Homo sapiens: one gene and its partner. Changing the gene in region 1 together with any one later gene gives a genetic interaction. Each region holds a gene or a part of one and is shown on either strand. Other genes may lie near its edges.

The links.
Region 2: changes in FN3K (region 1) and PRKCA together harm fitness more than expected from each alone (negative genetic interaction), as found in Homo sapiens cells (one large-scale study listed by BioGRID).

Annotation. Positions count from the first base shown.
Region 1 is NC_000017.11:82,745,398-82,748,757, reverse strand, and holds part of FN3K (fructosamine-3-kinase), read right to left. Parts: intron 1-3,360. UniProt on the Homo sapiens protein: Fructosamine-3-kinase involved in protein deglycation by mediating phosphorylation of fructoselysine residues on glycated proteins, to generate fructoselysine-3 phosphate.
Region 2 is NC_000017.11:66,309,024-66,312,842, forward strand, and holds part of PRKCA (protein kinase C alpha type), read left to right. Parts: intron 1-3,819. UniProt on the Homo sapiens protein: Calcium-activated, phospholipid- and diacylglycerol (DAG)-dependent serine/threonine-protein kinase that is involved in positive and negative regulation of cell proliferation, apoptosis, differentiation, migration and adhesion, tumorigenesis, cardiac hypertrophy, angiogenesis, platelet function and inflammation, by directly phosphorylating targets such as RAF1, BCL2, CSPG4, TNNT2/CTNT, or activating signaling cascade involving MAPK1/3 (ERK1/2) and RAP1GAP.

The DNA of each region.
Region 1 (3,360 bases):
AAGCCAACAAAGGAGGTAAGACAGAAACATAAAATACTCAACCCAGAGGAAGGCAGGTAAAGAGAGAACAAAGGGCAGATGAAACAAAAAACAAATTGCAAGATGACAGACTCAAAACTATATGACTAAGCACATTAAATACGAATGTCAAAAATAAATACTCTTGGTAAATGACAGATTGGCAGGTTGGAAAAATAAAGCAAATCCAACAATAAGTTATGTGCAAAAAGACATTATCTACTAAAAAAAAAAAAAGCTTGAAAGGATAGAAAAGATATACCATGCTAACACTAGTCAAAAGAAAGCTGGAGGCCAGGCACAGTGGCTCACGCCTGCAATTCCCAGCACTTTGGGAGGCTGAGGTGGGCAGATCCCTTGAGCCCAGGAGTTAAAGACCAGTCTAGGCAACATAAGGAAACTCCATCTCTACTAAAAATACAAAATTAGCCGGGCATGGTGGCGTGGGCCTGTAGTCCCAGCTACTTGGGAGGCTGACGTAGGAGAATCGCTTGAACCCACAGGCAAAGGGTGCAGTGAGCCGAGATCGCGCCATTGCACTCCAGCCTGGGCAACAAGAGTGAAACTCTATCTCAAAAAAAAAAAGAAAAAAAAAAAGAAAGCTAGAGTGGCTACATTAATACAAGACAAAGTAGATTTCAAAGCAAAGAAAATCAAATATAGTCATTTCACAAAGGGAGTCGACTAATGAACATAATAATCCTAAATGCCTACACCTCTAATAACACAGCTTCAAAATACGTAAAAGAACTGCAGGAAAAATAGATAAATCCCATATCCTGCTATTGACTCAATGGTGCCCACCCCCGTTCCTACGTTGAAGCCCTAACCCCTAATATACCTGTATTTGGAGGAAGGGCCTCTAGGAGGTAATTAGGGTTAAATAAAATCGTAAGGGTGAATTATTAATCCAATAGGATTAGTGGCCTATAAGAAGAGGAATAGAGTAGGATTTCTCTCTCCATGCAAACAGATCTCAATAAATTGAGAAGAATTTAAGCATGCAAAGTATAATCAAATTCAATTAGAAATCAATAGGAAGGCCAGGCCTGGTGGCTCACGCCCATAATCCCAACACTTTGGGAGGCCGAGGTGGGTGGATCACGAGGTCAAGAGATCAAAACCATCCTGACCAACATGGTGAAACCCCATTTCTACTAAAAATACAAAAAGTAGCTGGGCGTGATGGTGCATGCCTGTAGTCCCAGCTACTCGGGAGGCTGAGGCAGGAGAATCTCTTGAAACCAAGAGGCAGAGGTTGCAGTGAGCTGAGATTGTGCCATTGCACTCCAGCCTGGTGACAGAGCAAGACTCCGTCTCAGAAAAGCAAAACAAAACAAAATCAATAGGAAAAATTCTGGGAAATCCTCAAATATTTTAAAACTAAACACAGTTCTAAAATCTGTTTAAGAAAGATGTCTAAAGGGAAATTAGAAAGTGTTTTCAATTGAATGAAAGCAAAAACACAACTTATAATTTGTGAGATGCCACTAAAGCAGTACTTGGGGAAAATGTGTAGCACTAAACATCTGTGTTAGCAAAGATCTCACAGTAATGACCTCAGCTGCTACATTAACCAACCAGAAAAAGAGCACATTAAACCTAAAGTAAGCAAGAGGCCAGGCGCGGTGGCTCACACCTGTAATCCCAGCACTTTGGGAGGCCGAGGCAGGCAGATCACAAGATCAGGAGTTCGAGACCATCCTGGCCAAGATGGTGAAACTCTATCTCTACTAAAAATACAAAAATTAGCCAGGCGTGGTGGCAGGTGCCTGTAGTCCCAGCTGCTTGGGAGACTGAGACAGGAGAATCGCTTGAACCCAGGAGGCAGGGGTTGCAGTGAGCCAAGATCTTACCACTGCACTCTAGCCTGCTCAACAGAGTGAAACTCCATCTCAACAACAATAAAAAGGATAATAAGGAAATTTTTTTTTTGAGACCAAGTTTTGTTCTTGTTGCCCAGGTGGAGTGCAATGGCACGATCTCAGCTCACTGCAACCTCCCTGCCTCCCGGGTTCAAGCAATTCTCCTGCCTCAGCCTTTCGAGTAGCTGGAATTACAGGTGCCCGCCACCATGCCTGGCTAATGTTTTGGTATTTTTAGTAGAGATGGGGTTTCACCATGTTGGCCAGGCTGGTCTCGAACTCCTGACCTCAAGTGATCTGCCCACCTCGGCCTCCGAAAGTGCTGGGATTACAGGCGCGAGCCACCATGCCCAGCCTCTGAAGGACGCTTCCAAGAAAATACACAAACAACAAACTAGGAGACACTATTCGCAAATCATATATCTGGTAAAACACTCATATCCTAAATACGCAAAGAAATCTCAAAACTCAATAATAAAAAAAAAACCCTATTCACAAATTGGACAAAATAAGTGAACACATGGTTCACCAAAGAAGATATTTTGTCAGCAAACAGGCACACGAATAGATGCTCCACATCTTCAGTCATTATGGAAATGCAAAATAGAACCTCAGTGAGATAATATTTCACGCCCACTAGGATGGCTGTAATTTAAAACAAAAAATCTCAAGTGTTGACAAGGATGTGGAGGAACTGGAACTCCCATATGCTGCTGGTGGGAATGCAACATGGTGCAACCACTTTGGAAAAGAGTTTGGTAGTTTTTTTTTTTTTTTTTTTGAGACGGAGTCTTGCTCTGTCGCCCAGGCTGGAGTGCAGTGGCGAGATCTCGGCTCACTGCAAGCTCCACCTCCCGAGTTCACGCCATTCTCCTGCCTCAGCCTCCCAAGTAGCTGGGACTACAGGCGCCCGCCACCATGCCCTGTTAATTTTTTGTATTTTTTAGTAGAGACGGGGTTTCACTGTGTTAGCCATGATGGTCTCGACCTCCTGACCTTGTGATCCACCCGCCTCAGCCTCCCAAAGTGCTGGGATTACAAGTGTGAGCCACCCCACCCGGCCAGTAGTTTCTTAAAGAGCTAAATATGGACCTACCATATGACACAGTCATCCCCCTCCTAGGTATTTACCCGAGATAAGTGGAAGCATTTGTCCAGACCAAGATTTGTACACAAAGGTTCACAGCGGCTTTATTTGTATGAGCAAAAACTGGAAATGATCCAGAAATCCATCCACATGTGAATGGATAAACAGGCTGTGTTAGATCCGTACAGGGGAATGGGCTTTTGACACATGCAACATGGATGTGTATCACGGATGAATATCAAAGGATTTTAGACTTGGATAAATATCAGCATGATTATGCTGAGTGAGAGTGTGGGGAAAAGCAAGAGAGATCAGATTGTTACTGTGTCTGTGTAGAAAGAAGTAGACATAGGAGACTCCATTTTGTTCTGTACTAAGACAAATTCTTCT
Region 2 (3,819 bases), about 16 Mb from region 1:
CATCAGATTATTTTTACCCGATGAGGCAGTGCTTTCTGTCCACTAGTATGTAGTATGTTGCTTTGGTTAGTAGGTAAAATATCTGCAGCAAGCATAGTTTTTCTTTTTTTAACTAGAGGGGTGTGTATGCTCCCAGTGACTCACATATTCATGCAGTAAGTAATATAGCTTTAGATCCAAAATATTTATCTTCATTTTACTTAGTAAATGGTGAGTAGGTATTTGAAGACTAAAGAAATAAGTGAGTTTTAGTCCTTAAAACTGGGTTTGTAATTTATGCCATTTAGAGAATGGCATCTTACAAGCATGTGAAGTACTAAAGTTATTTCTACTTTCATTTATGTTGTATCTTGGGGAAGGGAAGGGCGTTTCTCTGGAGAGACTTATTGGCTTATTCTCATGTTCCCTTCATGGACTCTGTGCCATTCTTCTTTATATTGCAATATAGGTATACAATCCTGAAAACTGATATTACCAGGGCAAGTAACACAGGATCCCGTTGTCAGAATTTGCTGCCTGAAACGGTGAAACCAAGGGCCATTCTTCTGGGGAGGAGAAAGATGAGTGTGTAGTAGATTTCCAAGTGGGAAATACTTTTCTTAAGGTCCTCAGAGATAAAGACAAGCGTGTTCCTTCACAGCTCTGAAGTGACCCTTTTTACATGACTTGGAGTTGCCTTCTTATTTTTGGTTGAATGTTTTTTTGCTTGATGTACCCCTAGCACTCATTTCATCTCCATAAAACTAGCAGAGATCTAGTCCTTGCCCACTTTTTTTTTCCCCCGTCAGAGAAAGGAGAAGAAGACAGGAAGTAGATTTGTGTGGTATGGACATTGATGAAGTTGAGTTTCAAGTCTGGAAGGTCTGTTTCCAGTTGGTAGTTTCTGTCTTGCACTGGCTACTTCCAAAGTCAGTCATCAGAGAACAGAGCGATCCACTGTACTGCTCAAATGCACTCTTTCTCTGGGGCAGTGGAGCTGAAACAGTGTTATCCACTGCTTTCAGTACTGGAAAAGGGAAAGAGCCAACTCGATTTTTTTCCCCCTCCTTAGGCGGAGCAACACCCATGCACTTCTCTAATTACAGTGGTAGAAACAGCCTCTCAAAATGTGACCTGCCTATTTCAAATGCCAAACAGTTAACATAGTTTGTTTCATCTGCCTAACCTCCACTTGTTTTCTCTAATTTTTTTTTTTTTTTGCTATTCTTTGTCTTTTAATATCACAAATGAAAATGTGCTACAAACCTAGGCTCTTTGATGAGGTGAAGATACTCAAGAGACAGCGTGAGAATTAAGCTCTGTCAGTAACCATGACCAACAGGAGCCTGTTGTCCCTGAATGATCGTCACTGGATTTTGAGGGGTCTGCTGGGAAAGAATTTACATTTTTGTGCTTTCAATGATGCTACTAAAGTTGTTTTGAATCTTGAGTCATTTCCCTGCTAAGAACATAACACATATTGTACTTCATCTGTGACTTCAACTGAAGCTCTGCATTTTTCAGTGTTAAGGGTTAAAAAATCAGCTACTCTTCCCCTTTGATATTTTGTTTTGAAGGCCTGTTTCAGAGAAGGTATTTGCATTGGCTCATCTGAGCAGGGTGGTGATTTCTATTCCTTCTGTAAGAATGAAAGTTGGTGTTTAAGGGAAGAAAAAAAAGAATGAGTCTCCTCTTGGCTGTGTGAGCTGAGGGATTCCAGAAAACAAGACTACTTAAGGAAGGTGGCCTTTAAACAGAAAGGGGGCAGTAGCGAGTGAGTCACCAGCCTTTCAGAAAAGGGATGCGCCGTTGTCCTCATCCGCCACGGTGTTCTGAGAGCTGAGTTGTATGGACACCAAGTACCAGGAGATAGGAGACTGAGGTACAAGTTGGGTGGAATCATGAGGTAGGCCAGATTGAGCAGAGGATCTGTCTGTCCTCCCTATGGCCAACTTGAGCAGAGGATCTGTCCTCCCTATGTACTGCATTGACCGCTGCTTGCACTGTGTGGCCTCTGGCTGCCCGCTGGTTTTCAAAGTTAGTGCCAGGGTTTTCCATTATTCTGTCTTCAGGAGGGGTTCAGCCCTTGGTACCTCAGTTTTGATTGGTTACCCATCCCCAAATTGTAAGTTATGTTAATTAGAGATAAACTCTTGGAGGTTTAGTTCCAAAAAGATAGAATGCATGGAAGACTGAGTATAATTTGAAACCTAGAGTTTTTGTAGTAATGCCAGGTCAAAGCATTATCTCAGTCTCAAAGATGAAATGGTCAGTAATGCCTGAATTACAGAGAAAAGTGGTGGAGGTGGACAGTTAGAACTGCCTTTCTGTGGTTGGGTGCAGTGGCTCATGCCTGTCATCCCAGCACTTTGGAAGGTTGAGGCGGTCGAATTGCTTGAGCCCAGAACTTTAAGACCAGCCCGGGCAACATGGCAAAACCCCATCGCTACAAAAAATAGAAAAAGTAGCTGGGCATGGTGGTGCAGCACCCGTGGTCTCAGCTACTTGGGAAGCTGAGGTGGGAGGATCACTTGAGCCTGGGAGGTCGAGGATGCAATGAGGTGTGATCGTGCCACTGCATTCCAGCCTGGGCGACAGAGTGAGAGCCTGTCTCAAAAAACAAAACCAAACAATAACAAAAAATGCTATTTTTCTTTTCAACAGTGTTTTTCCTCCGTAAAACTGCATTAATACTTAGAAGTAGGGATGGTTAGATAAAACTAGTGTTGAGTGTTCCCATTTGGTGCTATATACTTGTTATAAAATGATTTCTGATTAATGACTTTCTGAATTGCTACTCTTTTACTTTATACGGTAAGTGAAAGTGTTTCGTTAATTTATTCACACATCAATCCTACCCCCGCCACCAGAAGCTGGGGTTGTAGCATATGGAGAGGCTATTTATCCTCATAGGTCGTGAAAGCCGAATAAATGTTTACTTTTGCAGATAAATCTGATGTTTGAGTTTCCTTTTCTTTATATTATTTTATTTTTTTGAGATGGAGTCTCGCTCTTGTCTCCCAGGCTGCGGTGCAATGGTGCAACTTTGGCTCACTGCAACCTCTGCCTCCTGGGTTCAAGCAATTCTTCTGCCTCAGCCTCCTGAATAGCTGGGATTACAGATGCATGCCACCATGCCCAGCTAATTTTTGTATTTTTAGTAGAGACGGAGTTTCACCATATTGGCCAGGCTGGTCTTGAACTCCAGACCTTAGGTGATCCTCCTGTTTCAGCCTCCCAAAGTGCTGGGATTACAGGCGTGGGCCACTGCACCCAACCAGAGTTTCCTTTTCTTTACATTTTTTGGTGGTTTCCTGCCCTCCGAGTATTTCACTCTCCTGGATGATACTATTGAAATTTAAGTTTTTAGACACATTAACTCCTCACTTGCTCAATTGTTTTTCTTCATGCAGATTCAGAGTATTCCATTTCCAAATAGCATTAGTTTCACAGCTGCCCTATCAGGATAAGTCCAACTCCTTAGCAAGACATTGGAAGACTCTTAAAGTCTCCTGCCTGACCTCTTCAGACTTACCTACAATGCTTTCCTTCTTCCTATCCCTGGGTCATTGTGAATAAGTTGCAGTTTCCCAGAAAGTGCTTGTTTCAATTCTTTCCTCAACCCCGTTTGCCCAGATGATATCTGTTTCACCTGTTAAGTCTTAGTCTAAGGTTTAGCTCTGGTCTTTCCCAATTGTCCTATTCTACATGTTCTTCCTATCGTAGGACCTTTTTTTTTTTTTTTTTTTTGTGAGACAGAGTGTCACTCTGTCACCCAGGCTGGAGTGTGCAGTGGCACAGTCTCACTTCACTGCAACCTTTGCCTCCTGGGCTCAAGAA